2 separate regions of the Homo sapiens genome follow, and region 1 is linked to region 2. Evidence: fine-mapped QTL for protein levels in blood plasma. A gene starts in region 2. The other region holds a variant in brackets. All regions are shown on one strand. Distances are from middle to middle.

What was found. PIP is the chance, under the fine-mapping model, that this variant and not a neighbour inherited with it causes the effect. Protein levels are from antibody-based Olink assays in UK Biobank. Linkage for the fine-mapping came from a reference panel and not from the study's own genotypes, which makes the PIPs less certain.
Region 1: its variant is fine-mapped to the plasma level of the NT5C protein (UK Biobank, PIP 0.98).

The regions. Positions count from the first base shown.
Region 1 is chr17:75,138,500-75,145,469 of GRCh38, forward strand. The region is part of intron 4 of JPT1 (Jupiter microtubule associated homolog 1); the gene reads right to left. It overlaps LOC107985034 (a long non-coding RNA gene), which reads left to right. Exons shown (of 2, transcript XR_007065907.1): 1 at 1-2,377. Among named protein-coding and RNA genes, the nearest start is that of NT5C, 10 kb to the left of the region's middle. The variant G/A (reference allele first, on the strand shown) is at 6,347.
Region 2 is chr17:75,131,325-75,138,092 of GRCh38, forward strand. It overlaps NT5C (5', 3'-nucleotidase, cytosolic), which reads right to left and starts at 418. Exons shown (of 5, transcript NM_014595.3): 1 at 210-418. The coding sequence starts at 383. JPT1 (Jupiter microtubule associated homolog 1) reads right to left here. Exons shown (of 5, transcript NM_016185.4): 5 at 3,924-4,926. The coding sequence ends at 4,778. LOC107985034 (a long non-coding RNA gene) reads left to right here and starts at 4,926. Exons shown (of 2, transcript XR_007065907.1): 1 at 4,926-6,768. RefSeq lists a silencer at 11-580.

The DNA.
Region 1 (6,970 bases), 7.3 kb after region 2:
CCAGGCTCAAGCGATTCTCCTGCCTCAGCCTCCCAATAGCTGGGGTTATAGGCGCCCGCCACCATGCCCAGCTAATTTTTTGTATTTTTGTAGAGACCAGGTTTCACCATGTTGGCCAGGCTTGTCTCAACCTCCTGACCGCAAGTGATCCACCCACCTCAGCTGCCCAAAGTACTCAGATTACAGGCGTGAGCCACCATGCCCGGCCAAGAAGAGGTCTTTAACACTTACTCTCAATTCATGTACTTATCTCATGATAGGCTAGAAGCAAACAAACCTCCCTCTTCTGTGGCTGCAGTATTTCTCATTGGACAGACATTTATTTTATTTATTTATTTTTCATGCTTTGTTAATGTTAACATACTACTGCTGCTTTTAACATTTCATGAATTTCTGGAACATTCTATGGGAGTAACATAAAATGTTCTATACTATTTAACTACAAGCAAAAATAGAGTATGAAGCTTTTCAGAATGACAACTGTCACAATTATGAACTAAAACTCAGAGAGGGTCACCCATTAGTTTCCTTGGTTACATCCATTGTAAAAGAAGCAAGATCAAATGCACTGGATCAGACACACAAGTCCTACAATAAGTGTCCCTGAAATAACCTAAATATAATTGTAAATATAAAAGAAAAACAAAACTCCACATTTAAAATATTCAAGATAAAGAGAATTCGGACTGAGACAACTTGTTAGTTCAAGCAGTTTCATTTCTGCTGGTGGGACATGGCCTCCTGCTATACATACAGGATCTACTGAAGTCTTCATTCTCTCTCTGAATCCAGCAGTTAATGAACATTCTGAAGAACAAAAAATTATCTTGCAGTCCTGCCATAGTGGTTTATTTTCATAAAATCCTCTTCAGATGAATCAAGCTCAATACTACTAATCTTATATTTGTCTTACATTATTACTAGAACTGTTTTGTTTTTCACAAATACATAACATACTAATAAAGAAGAAGAAAAAAATAAAAAAGCACCTATGGAGACTAAACAAGCAGCAGTAGGCCTTACTTTAAATGTCTGTCCAGGCCAGGTGCAGTGGCTCACACCTGTAATCCCAGCACTTTGGGAGGCCAAGGCAGCTGAATAACCTGAGGTCAGGAGTTTGAGACCAGCTTGGCCAACATGGTGAAACCCCGTGTCTACAAAAGTACAAAAATTAGCTGGGCGTGTGTGCGCGCCTGTATTCACAGATACTCGGGAGGCTGAGGCAAGAGAATCACTTGAACCCGGGAGGCGGAGTTTGAAGTGAGCCAAGATCGTGCCACAGCACTCCAGCCTGGGCGACAGAGTAAGACTCCGTCTCAAAAATAAATAAATGTCTGTCCAGTCAGAAGTACTCCACCCACAGAGGAGGGAGGTTTGTTTGTTTCCAGCCCATAATGAGATAAGTACAGGAATTGAGAGTAAGTGTTCAGAAACTTTGATTTATTTTTTCAGATGGAGTCTCTCTCTCTTGCCAGGCTGGAGTGCAGTGGCGCAATCTATCTCCACCTCCCAGGTTCAAGCGATTCTCCTGCCTCAGCCTCCCAAGTAGCTGGGATTACAGGCGCGTGCCACCACGCCTGGCTAATTTTTGTATTTTTAGTAGAGACGGGCTTTCACCATGTTGGCCAGGATGGTCTTGATCTCTTGACCTCATGATCCGCACACCTCAGCCTCCCGAAGGGCTGGGATTACAGGCATGAGCCACCGCGCCCAGCCAAATGTTTAGAAACTTTTATGCCAATTTGACACAGAAAGCTTTTGTCTGCTGAAGATAATTTAAAAAAAAAAAGGGCTTTAAATGAAATTATTTCTACCAAAATATACATTTTAGACACTCCTGGTCTCTTTTCTTTGGCACATCAATAAGATAACTGAACAAAGACATCTCTATCTGAATAGAAAATGATTCATTGTAAGCATCAAAGAATCAGAACTGGAAGAAATGTAGCCGACCATCTAACTTGCCCGCAGTCAGGGAGACTTCTCTGCCTGAACTTCCTGGACCTTCTCCCTCTTAGATTTCTCAAGATGGAAACTCCAAAGTCATTCCTGTAGCCATTCCTGCGTTTAATTGCCCAAGAGGTAAAATAAATTTCCCGTATATCCAAAGGGAATCTATCTTATTTAAACTGAATTGGGGTTGACCTTTAATCCTCCAGATGTATCTTATTACTGTACCTCAGCCAGGCACAGCGGCTCACACCTGTAATCCCAGAATTTTGGGAGGCCAAGGCAGGAAGATCAACATGAACCCAGGACCAGCCGGGGGAAACATAGCAAAACCCTGTCTCTACAGAAACTACAAAAATTGGCCAAGCACGGTGGCTCACGCCTGTAATCCCGACACTTTGGGAGGCCAAGGCAGGTGGATCACGAGGTAAGGAGTTCGAGACCGGCCTGGGCAAGATGGTGAAATCCTGTCTCTACTGAAAACACAAAAATTAGCTGGACACAGTGGCGGGCACCTGTAATCCCAGCTACTCGGGAGGCTGAGGCAGGAGAATTGCTTGAATCAAAGAGGTGGAGGCTGCAGTGAGCCAAGATCATGCCACTGCATTTCTAGCCTGGGCAACAGAGCAAGACTCCATCTCAAAAACAAAACAAAAACAAAACCACAAAAATTAGCCAGGCATGGTGGCATGCAACTGTAGTCCCAACTACTCAGGAAGCTGAGGTGAGAGGATGGCTTGAACCCGGAAGTCAAGGCTGCAGTGAGTGGTGATTGTGCCACTGCACTCGTGGTTCAGGCAACAGTGAGAACCTGTCTCAGTAAAGAAAAAAATATTATTGTGCCCCTTTTCATTTTAAGACAGATGAACTAAAGTTGCAGCAGTCAGCCACACAGAATATATCAGATCAGAAACTTAAAAAGGCCGGGCACAATAGCTTACACCTGTAATCCCAGCACTTTGGGAGGCCAAGGCAGGGGGATCACCTGAGGTCAGGAGTTTGAGACCAGCCTGGCCAACATGGTGAAATACTGTCTCTACTAAAAATACAAAAATTAGCTAGGCATGGTGGTGCATGCCTGTAGTCCCAGCTACTCGGGAGGCTGAGGCAGGAGAATCACTTGAACCCGGGAGGCGGAGGTTGCAGTGAGCCGAGATTATGCCACTGCACTCCAGCCTGGCGACAGAGTGAGACTCTCAAAAAAAACAAAAAGGAAAAAACAACAACAGGTAACCAGATAACCACTGGGGGGAAAAAGAAAGGACTTAGGAGTTTGCGACCAGCCTGGCCAACATGGCGAAAACTCCGTGTCTGCTAAAAATAAAAAAAATTAGTTGAGCGAGGCTGGGCGCAGTGGCTCATGCCTCCCAGCGCTTTGGGAGGCCAAGGTGGGTAGATCGCTTGAGGTCAGGAGTTCGAGACCAGCCTGGTGAATATGGTGAAACTCCGTCTCTACTAAAAGTAAAAAAAATAGCCAGCTGTAGTGGCGCACACCTGTAGTCCCAGATACTCAGGAGGCTAAGGCGGGAGAATCGCTTGAACCTGGGAGGCGGAGGTTGCCTTGAGCTGAGATCATACCACTGCACTCCAGCCTGGGTGACAGAGCAAGGCTCTGTCTCGAAAAAACAAAAACTGTGAAGGGGACTGAAAAGGGAACAGAATTATTAATTATGTGGTAGGACTATTGACACATTGTTGACATACTTCTCCAAGTTCCCCTAACTTCTAGTTGTATTAACTGACCAAAATAATTGAATAAAGATTAGCTGATTCTTGTTAAATAAGGTCTGACAGTGAAAGTATTCAGAATATAGAAAGCAGTAGAACCGGCCGGGCCTGGTGGCTCACGCCTGTAATCCTAGCATTTTGGGAGGCCAAGGCAGGTGGATCACCTGAGGTCAGGAGTTCAAGACCAGTCTGGCCAACATGTTGAAACTCTGTCTCTACTAATAAAAAAAAAATTAGCCGGGCGTGGTGGCAGCCCTTGTAATCCCAGCTACGCAGGGAGGCTGAGGCAGGAGAATCACTTGAAACCGGTAGGTGGAGTTGCAGTGAGCCGTGATCGTGCCACTACACTCCAGCCTGGACAACAAGAGCTAAACTCCGTCAAGGGGGGAGGGGAGGGGAGAGGGAGGGAGAGGGAGGGAGGGAGGGGAAGGGGGAGAGAGGAGGGGAGGGAGGGGAGGGAGGGGAGGGGGGGATGGAGGGAAGGGGGAGGAAGGGAACGGGAAGGGATGAGAAGGGAGGGGAGGGGAAGGGAGAGGAGGGAAGAAGGAAGGAAGCAAGAAGTGGAATCAAAAAACCTAGATTTTACCTCCAGAAGTCTTTCCAGAACAGTACAAATAGAACACAAACAGTAATTAATACATACATCTTCGGTCCAATGCAAAAGTAACTGGTCCTGTGATATTATGATATACATACGTATATGAAAATACACACACACACACACAAAATCTGTTTTTGTCCACAGCTACTGGCTGGTAACTCCCATAGCCCTTAAAAGTCTTTTGAATGGGGTGCATTAAGCCTCAGGAGCAGCCCTCAGGAAACAGAATCTCTTTGTGACCTCCTGTCCTCCTTTTACCTGCCCAGGGCAGGACTGTAATCTGATGGCAGGTCAAAAGACCCTTAATCCAGAGGGTCCTGCTCCATACCCTGGAGGAGGGAATGCTACATGGAGAGGCCAAGAAGAATCTAACAGACGGGCCTTCTGAGTTCCCTTGTTCAGTCCATTGGTATGAAATCAAACCTTTTTTGTCTAATCGTATTTCTGTACAGTTGTCAATCATGCTTATGTAATGAAGCCTCCATAAAAAACCAAAAGGGGCCAGGTGTAGCGGCTCATGCCTGTAATCCCAGCACTTTGGAAAGCCAAAGCAGGTGGATTACTGGAGGTCAGGAGTTCAGTATCAGCCCGGCCAACATGGTGAAACCTCGTCTCTACTAAAAATACAAAATTAGCCAGGTATAGTAGCGTGCACCTGTAATCTCAGCTACTCAGGAGGCTGAGGCAGGAGAATTGCTTGAACCCAGGAGGCAGAGGTTGCAGTGAGCCAAGATCATGCCATTGCACTCCAGCCTGGGCAAAAAGTGTGAAACTTGGCCAGGCATGGTGGCTTACACCCATAATCTTAGCACTTTGGGAGGCTGAGGAGGGTGGATCACCTGAGGTCAGGAGATCAAGACCAGCCTGGCCAACATGGCGAAACCCTGTCTCCACTAAAAATTAAAAAATTACCTGGGCATGGTGGTGCATGCCTGTAATCTCAGCTACTCAGGAGGCTGAGGAAGGAGAATCGCTTGAACCTGGGAGGCAGAGGATGCAGTGAGCTGAGATGGCACCACTGCACTCCAGCCTGGGTGACAGAGAGTGAGACTCCATCTCAGAAAAAAAAAAGAGCGAATCTCCATCTCGAGAAAAAAAAGAAAAACCCAAAAGGGGCTGGGCACAGTGGCTCACTTTGGGAGGCAAAGGTAGGAAGACTGCTTGAGTCCAGGAGGTTGAGGCTATAGTGAGCAATGAGATTGTGCCACTGCACTCTAGCCTGGTTAAGACCAAAACCCAGTCTTAAAAAAACACCCAGAAGGATGGATTCTGAGGACTTCTGGATAACTGAACATGTGGAAGCTGACAGGAAGGTGCAACAACTCATCCATGTGCCAGGAGGGTGGCACACCCCAACTCCAAGGTACAGGAGCTCCTGTACTTGGGACCTTTCCATACCAGGCCCCAAGTATCTCCTCACTGGGCTGTTTATTTGTATCCTTTCAAATATCCTTCGTAACAACCCAGGTACAGTGGCTCATGCCTGTAATCTCAATACTTTTGGAGGCTGAGGTGGGAGGATCACATGACTGGCCTGTGTAACATAACATAGTGAGACCACATCTCTACAAAAAAAGAAAAAAAATTAGCCAGGCATGGTGGCATACACCTGTATCCCAGCTACTCAGGAGGCTGAGGCAGGAGGATTGCTTCAGCTCAGGAGTTTGAAGTTGCAGTGAGCTGTGAGGGTGACACTGCACTCCAGTCTGGACAACAGAGCAAGATTCAGTTTAGAAAAAAATAAAAAAAAATGTATCATATATTCATAATGAACCTGTAAACATAAGTGTTTCCCTGAGTTCTTTCTGTGAACCTCTCTAGCAAATTAATCAAAACCATAGAAGGGGTCACAGGAACCCCAATTTGAAGCCAGTCGGTCAGAAGTTCCAGAGGCCCAGACTTACAACTGGTGGGAAGGAAGGGGCAGTCTTGTGGGACTGACCCTCAACCTGCTGAATCTGAGGTTATCTTCAGGCAGAGGGTGTGGAAACTGGATTGGAGGACTCCCAACTGGTGTCCACTGATTGGCGTGTGGGGAGAAACCCCCCATATTTGGTCACAGGTGTC[G/A]TCTTCTGTGTTGATGATTGTTGTGGTGTGAAAAAAAGAGGAAAAACACGTTTGAGTGTTTTCCCCCTAAACAGGTCCTATAAGGAAGAACCCAGGCAATGCTCCCAAAGGCTCAGGAGCTTCTCCTCTAAGCCCACCAAGAAACACTGTGAGGCCGGGCGCAGTGGCTCATGCCGGGCATGGTGCCGCGTGCCTGTAATCCCAGCTATTCAGGAGGCTGAGCCAGGAGAAGTGCTTGAACCCGGGAGGCAGAGGTTGAAGTGAGCTGAGATCCTGCCACTGCACTCCAGCCTGGATGACAGAGCCAGACTCCATCTCAAAAAAAAAAAAAAAAAAAAAACACAACCAAAAAAACAGAACACTGTGTGAGAAGGCAGGAGAGGAATCTGCTTCTTCAACCTTTCCGTGTGTCCTTGTAAGCACACCACAAAACATAAGGGTAGGAAAAGGCCTTAAGAGGAAGCTGCTGCTTCTGTCTAGACCAGAGGGCCTTGTGACTGCTGCACTTCACTGACTGCTACTGCCTGACACTTACAAACCTTGCACTCATCGGCAAGTCTTTAGCACTTGTTACAGAAATGCCAATAAATACCTCCAAGATTTAAGATAATTAAGTCAATGATT
Region 2 (6,768 bases):
GGACCCGCAGGGAGGCTCCTGGGGGCTCCGGGCCCGAGCTCAGAGGGGCGGAGGGGGCGTCGGTCAGGGGCACGCGCCCAAAGGCTCCTCCCCAGGGTGCGCTGCCCGCGGGTTCCAGGGTGAGAGCTCTGCGCCCTTCACAGAGAAGGGGGAGACCCCCGGAACGGAGCGAGCGGGCCCTGCCCGGGTGGGGACCCTGCGCCCCCTACCGCCAGGTCGGGCCGCAGGGCGCGGTACTGCTCGCGGGCCAGGAAGCCGCGGCGTTGCTCCAGCGGCACGTGCGGCTCCTCAGGGAAGCGGCGGCGGAAGCCCCGCAGGAGGCCGGCCTCGAAGTCGGCCAGGACGCCGTCCATGTCCACCAGCACGCGCACGCTCCGCGCCATCGCCGCCGGGCCGGAGCTGCGAGCTCTCGGGGTCTGGGGGGCGCGGGCTCGGCCGGAAGCGGAGGGAGCGCTGCTTCCGGAGTCCGCCGGGCTGATTTGCATAGAGTGTCCGGGCCGCCCCGCCCAGGTCGTAAACCAGTGCCGACGGCCCTGCGGTTGCGCGAGGCCATCCTAGGGTTCGGGTGCAGGGACGGCTTTGGGGGGCACTTTTCTGACCCTGCGCTTCTTCGGGACCCAGCCTTTGTCCCCATCAGCCGCCTCCCACTTTACGGCAGACGTACCCCCGTTCACCCCACGTTACTAGTAGGGGACCGACCTTCCGGGGGCCCAACAAAGGGATGCTCTGAAATACTGGGAAGCATCTAACGAGGAGTCAAGGGTCCTAAACCCGTGGGGCTAGCTCCACATTTTTTTTCTTTTTTTCTTTTTTTTTTTTTTTATTTTGAGACGGAGTCTGGCTCTGTCGCCCAGGCTGCGGCGCAGTGGCGGCGCGATCTCGGCTCACTGCAGCCTCCGCTTCCCGGGTTCAACCGATTCTCTTGCTTCAGCCTCCCGAGTAGCTGGGATTACAGGCACCCGCCACCACGCCTGGCTAATTTTTGTAGTTTTAGTAGAGACGGGGTTTCGCCATGTTGGTCAGGCTGGTTTCAAACTCCTGACCTCAAGTGATCTGCCTGCCTTGGCCTCCCAAAGTGTTGGGATTATAGGCTTGAGCCACCGCACCTGGCCAAAGTCTTATTACCGCAGTACCGTGGTCTCAGTGGATTGCTTTCGTCTGTGCAGTGGAGCAGGAACAATCCCTCGAGGACTACAAAGTGAAATGAATCTGTTAACTGGTTTGTGTAAGTCTAGCTCGTTAAGAGACTAATTCACACTAGAGTTGGCTTGAAACATGGGAGCTTCAAGTGTGGTTTCCCCCGGAAAGATGATTTTGATCAAGCACAGGTAATCAGGACTGTCCTCAGGACTTTATGTGGAACTGACATCGCTTACCTACTCCCGTCTAGAAAATGCTGAACAGGGCCAGGTGCGGTGGCTCACGCCTATAATCCCAGCACTTTGGGAGGCCGTGGCGGGCGGATCATCTGAGGTCGGGAGTTCAAGACCAGCCTGACCAACATGGAGAAATCCTGTCGCTACTAAAAATACAAAATTAGCGTGGTGGCACATGCTTGTAATCCCAGCTACCCGGGAGGCTGAGGCAGGAGAATCTCTTGAATCCAGGAGGCAGAGGTTGCGGTGAGCCGAGATCATGCCATTGCCCTCCAGCCTGGGCAGCAAGAACAAAACTCCTTCTCAAAAAAAAAAAAAAAAAAAAAGAACATGCTGAACTGTGATACATTTTGTTGACTCTTCTTTTTGTGGATGTCATGAAACTTCCTGACTCCACTCAAATCTATTTGCCTACAAACTATAAAGCCAGGCGCCGTGGCTCAGGCTGGTAATCCCAGCACTTTGGGAGGCCCAGGTGGGAGACAGCTTGAGCCCAGGAGTTCAAGACCAGCCTGAGCAACACAGGGAGACCCTGTCTCTACAATAAACAAATCAATAAGCTGGGTATGGTGGCGCATGCCTGTGGTCCTAGCTACTCATGAGCCTTAGGTGGGAGGAACCCTTGAGCCCAGGAAATTGAGGCTACACAGCCTTCATCCTGCCACTGCACTCCAGCCTGGGTGACAGAGGGAGTCCCTGTTGGGGGAGGGGAGAGCCAAAATTATAAACACAGATTTAAGTGGCCCATCTCGCCATTGTTCCCCATCTGATGAACCCACTGCTTCCAAATATATGTAACAGAGGCTGGGCACGGTAGCTCACGCCTGTAATCCCAGCACTTTGGGAGGCTGAGGCGGGCGGATCATGAGGTCAGGAGATCAGGACCATCCTGGCTAACACGGTGAAACCCTGTCTCTACTAAAAATACAAAAAAAAAAAAAAAATTAGCTGGGCATGGTGGCGGGTGACTGTAGTCCCAGCTACTCAGGAGGCTGAGGTAGGAGAATGGCATGAACCCGGGAGGCAGAGATTACAGTGAGCCAAGACCACGCCACTGCACTCCAGCCTGGGCCACAGCGAGACTCCGTCTCAAACAAACAAACAAACAAAACATGTAATAGAAGCATCACACACACAAAAAAACCTGACAGGGCCGGGTGCAGTGGCTCACGCCTGTAATCCCAGCATTTTGGGAGGCCGAGGCAGGTGGATCACAAAGTCAGGAGTTCGAGACCAGCCTGACCAACATGGTGAAACCCCATCTCTACTAAAAATACAAAAACTAGCCGGGCATGGTGGGACATGCCTACAAATCCCAGCTACTCAGGAGGCCAAGGCAGGAGAATTGCTTGAACCCGGGAGACAGACGTTGCAGTGAGCCAAGATCATGCCACTGCAGTCCAGCCTGGGTGACAGAGCCAGACTCCATCTCAGAAAAAAAAAAAGCCTGACAAACCAGTCTAAGAGGGGCTCAAGTCAACATGCATATGACTCATAGATACGCAGACATTTTGGAGGCCCAGACTTGCGAGTTATCTCAAGGGGAAGCAGTCTTGGGGGCTGAGCCCTCAACTTGTGGAATCAAAGCTATCTCCAGGTAACTGATTGTCAGAATTGAATTGGAGGGCCAGGTGAGGTGGCTCATGCCTATAATCCCAGCACTTTGGGAAGTCGAGGTGGGCAGATTACTTGAGGTCAGGAGTTCGACACCAGCCTGGGCAACATGGCATAAACCCTGTCTCTACTAAAAATACAAAAATTAGCTGGGTGTGGTGGCACATGCCTGTAGTCCCAGCTACTCGGGAGGGTGAGGCAGGAGAATCGCTGGAACCCAGAAGGCAGAGGTTGCAGTGAGCAGATTGTGCCACTGCACTTCAGCCTGGGCGACAGACTGAGACACTGTCTTAAAAAAAAAAAAAAATTGGAGGACACCTAGCTGGTATCCACTGCAGAATTGCTTGCTTGCTTGCTTGCTGGTGGGGAGAAATCCCCGCATATTTAAAGTTGGAGAACTTTTTTTGAGACAGGGTCTTGCTGTCACCCAGGCTGGAGTACAGTGGTGCGATCATGGCTCACTGCAGCCTTGATCTCACAGGGTGAAGCAATCCTCCTGCCTCAGCCTCCCGACTACAGGCGTGTGCCATCACACCTGGCTATTTTTGGTAGAGACGAGGTTTCACCATGTTGCCCAGTCTTGGAGAACACTTTAAAATGTTACTGCCCAGAACAAAGGGGAGGTAGAAGAGTCTAACCTGCTCATCTTTAGAGCCTTCTTCAGAAAGAAACCCACTCCTCTCTGGGTCTTCATCTGTTTTAAGATTTTGTTTTTTAAGGAGGTCTCGCTATGTTGCCCAGGATAGTCTCAAACTCCTGGGCTCAAGCATCCTCTTGCCTTGGCTTCCCAAGTAGCTAATTACAGGCACATCTGGCTATTTAACTTCAAATGACTCCTCCAATCAGTAGGCAGGATTTATAGTGACAAAGAGAAAAGCATCTAACCAGGGAGAACACTGAAACCATCTCAAAAAGAAGACACAGTACACAGTGTTTCAAAATGTGGATATTGTTTACTTGAAGCAACAGTCCAGGATTGTGAAGTACAACACATTTTAAGGATGAGACTTTCCTTTCATGGTCAAGCACCAGCATCATGCACACAGCATCAGGTTATTTAAAACAACACGCCTGTGGGACCCCGTTCCTGGAGGAAGACCCGCTTCAGTGTGATTGCCTCCCTTGCTTCACTGCTTTTAGTTCCAGGCAGTTTCATTGTACATCCAAGCCTTCCTCTGCGTGAGAGCAAAGGCTTTGCTCATCAGCCAGCCAGTCTTGTTACTATCTGGCTACTTTTTAAGGTTAAAAAATAAAAGGCAGTTTCTTTGCTTTGCAGGCGGCAAGGCAGGAGGCGCAGGCCTCTTCATTGTTCACATGTCACAGGAGGAGGCTCTGAGCAAAGGCCACTGGCAAGTTAGGGCAACACCAAGAAGGCTCTGCGGAGAGACTCCCTGTGGGTTGGGGCCTGGCAGGAACGGTGCCTGTGGACTGTTTATGGTCTGTCCAGTTGAGGCTTGGTAAACCCAAGTAAAGTGTTAAAAACCTCAGTACAAAAGATCCTCTAACACATCTGGAACCAAATTATTTCTTCTTAAAAACACAGTACTAAGTGTCACAAAGCTTTCCCTCCAATCTACTACTAGAAAACACTCATGCCATGGCCCACAGACCCAAGAGTCAAGGACAGAGAGAAACCTGTTCTTCAAAAGAAAAAAAAAAAAGACAGCAGTACATAAAGTGCTTCTTTTTAATGAAACAAATCCAAGAGATGTACAGTCAGGCTCAAGTTGTGCAGTTCACAAGCATGGAGGAAACAGACAGAACGACAGCGTTCAGGACAGTCAGAGCTAACCCAAGACGAGGCTGGACTTGCCGCCAGGGGGATTTCTTCTGGATGGCACTGGGGCCGGGGCCACCGGGCTGGGCACAGGCGCAGCAGGCACGGGCTTCTCTTCACTCTGCCCCAGGCTGCCTGGCAAGTCTGTGTCCACATTTTCTATGAAAACAGGGAATAGAAATAATACTCATAATGACAGCCATTTCCTGTTAAGATCAAGGATCTGTTTCTCTTTTTCTTTTTTTTTTGGTTTGATGGTTGGAAACATACCTAAAAGCATAAACAAAATAATCACCCACCATGCTCCCACTCCACAGAATTAACCATTGTTCATCTTTTCCCATATTTGTTGTTTATGTTCTTTTCTAAATTACACAAATATATAAGGACATGAAGTTTTTTTTTGTTTTGTTTTGTTTTTTGACGGAGTCTCGCTGTTGCCCAGGCTGGAGTGCAATGGTGCAGTCTTGGCTCACTGCAACCTCCACTTCCCAGGTTCAAGCAATTCTCCTGCCTCAGCCTCTCTAGTAGCTGGGATTACAGGCGCCTGCCGCCATGCCCGGCTAATTCTTGTATTTTTAGTACAGATGGGGTTTCACCATCCTGGCCAAGCTGGTCTTGAATTCATGACCTTGTGATCCACCTGCCTCGGCCTCCCAAAGTGCTGGGATTACAGGCGTGAGCCACCGCGCCTGGCCCAAGGACATGAAGATTTTTAAATAAGAACAGGGAACTCTAGCTCTACGGCCCCTTCCAGCTCCGGGTGGATCCTGCTCCCCCTATTCCCAGAGGTCCCACTGCAAGTCCTGTGCAGCCTTCTAGTCCACTTGTTTTATGTATATTTACATGTAGCCAGATAACATGTAACATGTTTTGGTTATATTTAACATAAATGGTATCAACTTCTTTTTTTCACTCTTGGAAATGTATCCATATTTACAAACAGGGTAGTAATTCGCCTTGCTTATTAACTGTATGTTTTCAAATCCCTCACCTCACTGTCAAGCTTCATTGCTTTATAGTAATTATCACATGATATAGGCTATTTATCCAATTCTCTGACAGCAAAAAAACTGGAACCCATCCAATTTTCCAAATGAATTGTCTCTCATTAGGGTTGTTTCTAAACCGGGAAAAAACTGATTCAAAGTGCAAAGTGAATGCAAAAATTCTATATTTTCTATGAAAGGAAACTTTTACTAAGAGCTTAATAGTATACATATTTTTAGTTTTTTTGTTTGTTTGTTTTTTGTGGAGGGGTGGGGTGGCAGGTGGAGGATATTGAGACAGGGTCTCACTCTGTGGCCCAGGCTGGAGTGCAGTACCTCAATCACAGCCCACTGTAGCCTCAAACTCCTGGGCTCAAGCAATCCTCCTATATCAGTCTCCCAAATAGCTGGGACTACAGGCGCGCACCACCACAACTGGCTATTTTTGTTTTTTTTTTTTTTTTATTTTTAAAAGATGGGGTCTCCTTATGTTACCCAGGCTGGTCTCAAATTCCTGGACTCAAGTGATCCTCCCATCTCACCCTCCCTAAGTGCTGGGATCACAGGCATGAGCCACCTTCACCCTTCACACAGCCTAGTTTTCCTTTTTTTTTTTTTTTTTTTTTTTTTTTGAGACAGGGTCTTTAACCTCTGCCTCCTGGGTTCAAGCAATTCTCCTGCCTCAGCCTCCCGAGTAGCTGGAATTACAGGCATGCACCACCATGCCTGATTAATTTTTGTATTTTTAGTAGAGACGGGGTTTCGCCATGTTGGCCAGGCTGGTCTCAAACTCCTGGCCTCAAGTGAGCCACCTACCTTGGCCTCCCAAAGTGCTGGGATTACAGGCATTAAGCCACTGCACCCGGCCTAGTTTTCCTTTTTTTTCTTTAGTTGAGATGGAGTTTCACACATGTTGTCCAGGCTAGAGTGCAACAGTGCAATTTCGGCTCACTGCAACCTGTGCCTCCCGGGTTCAAGCAATTCTCCTGCCTCAGCATCCCAAGTAAGTAGC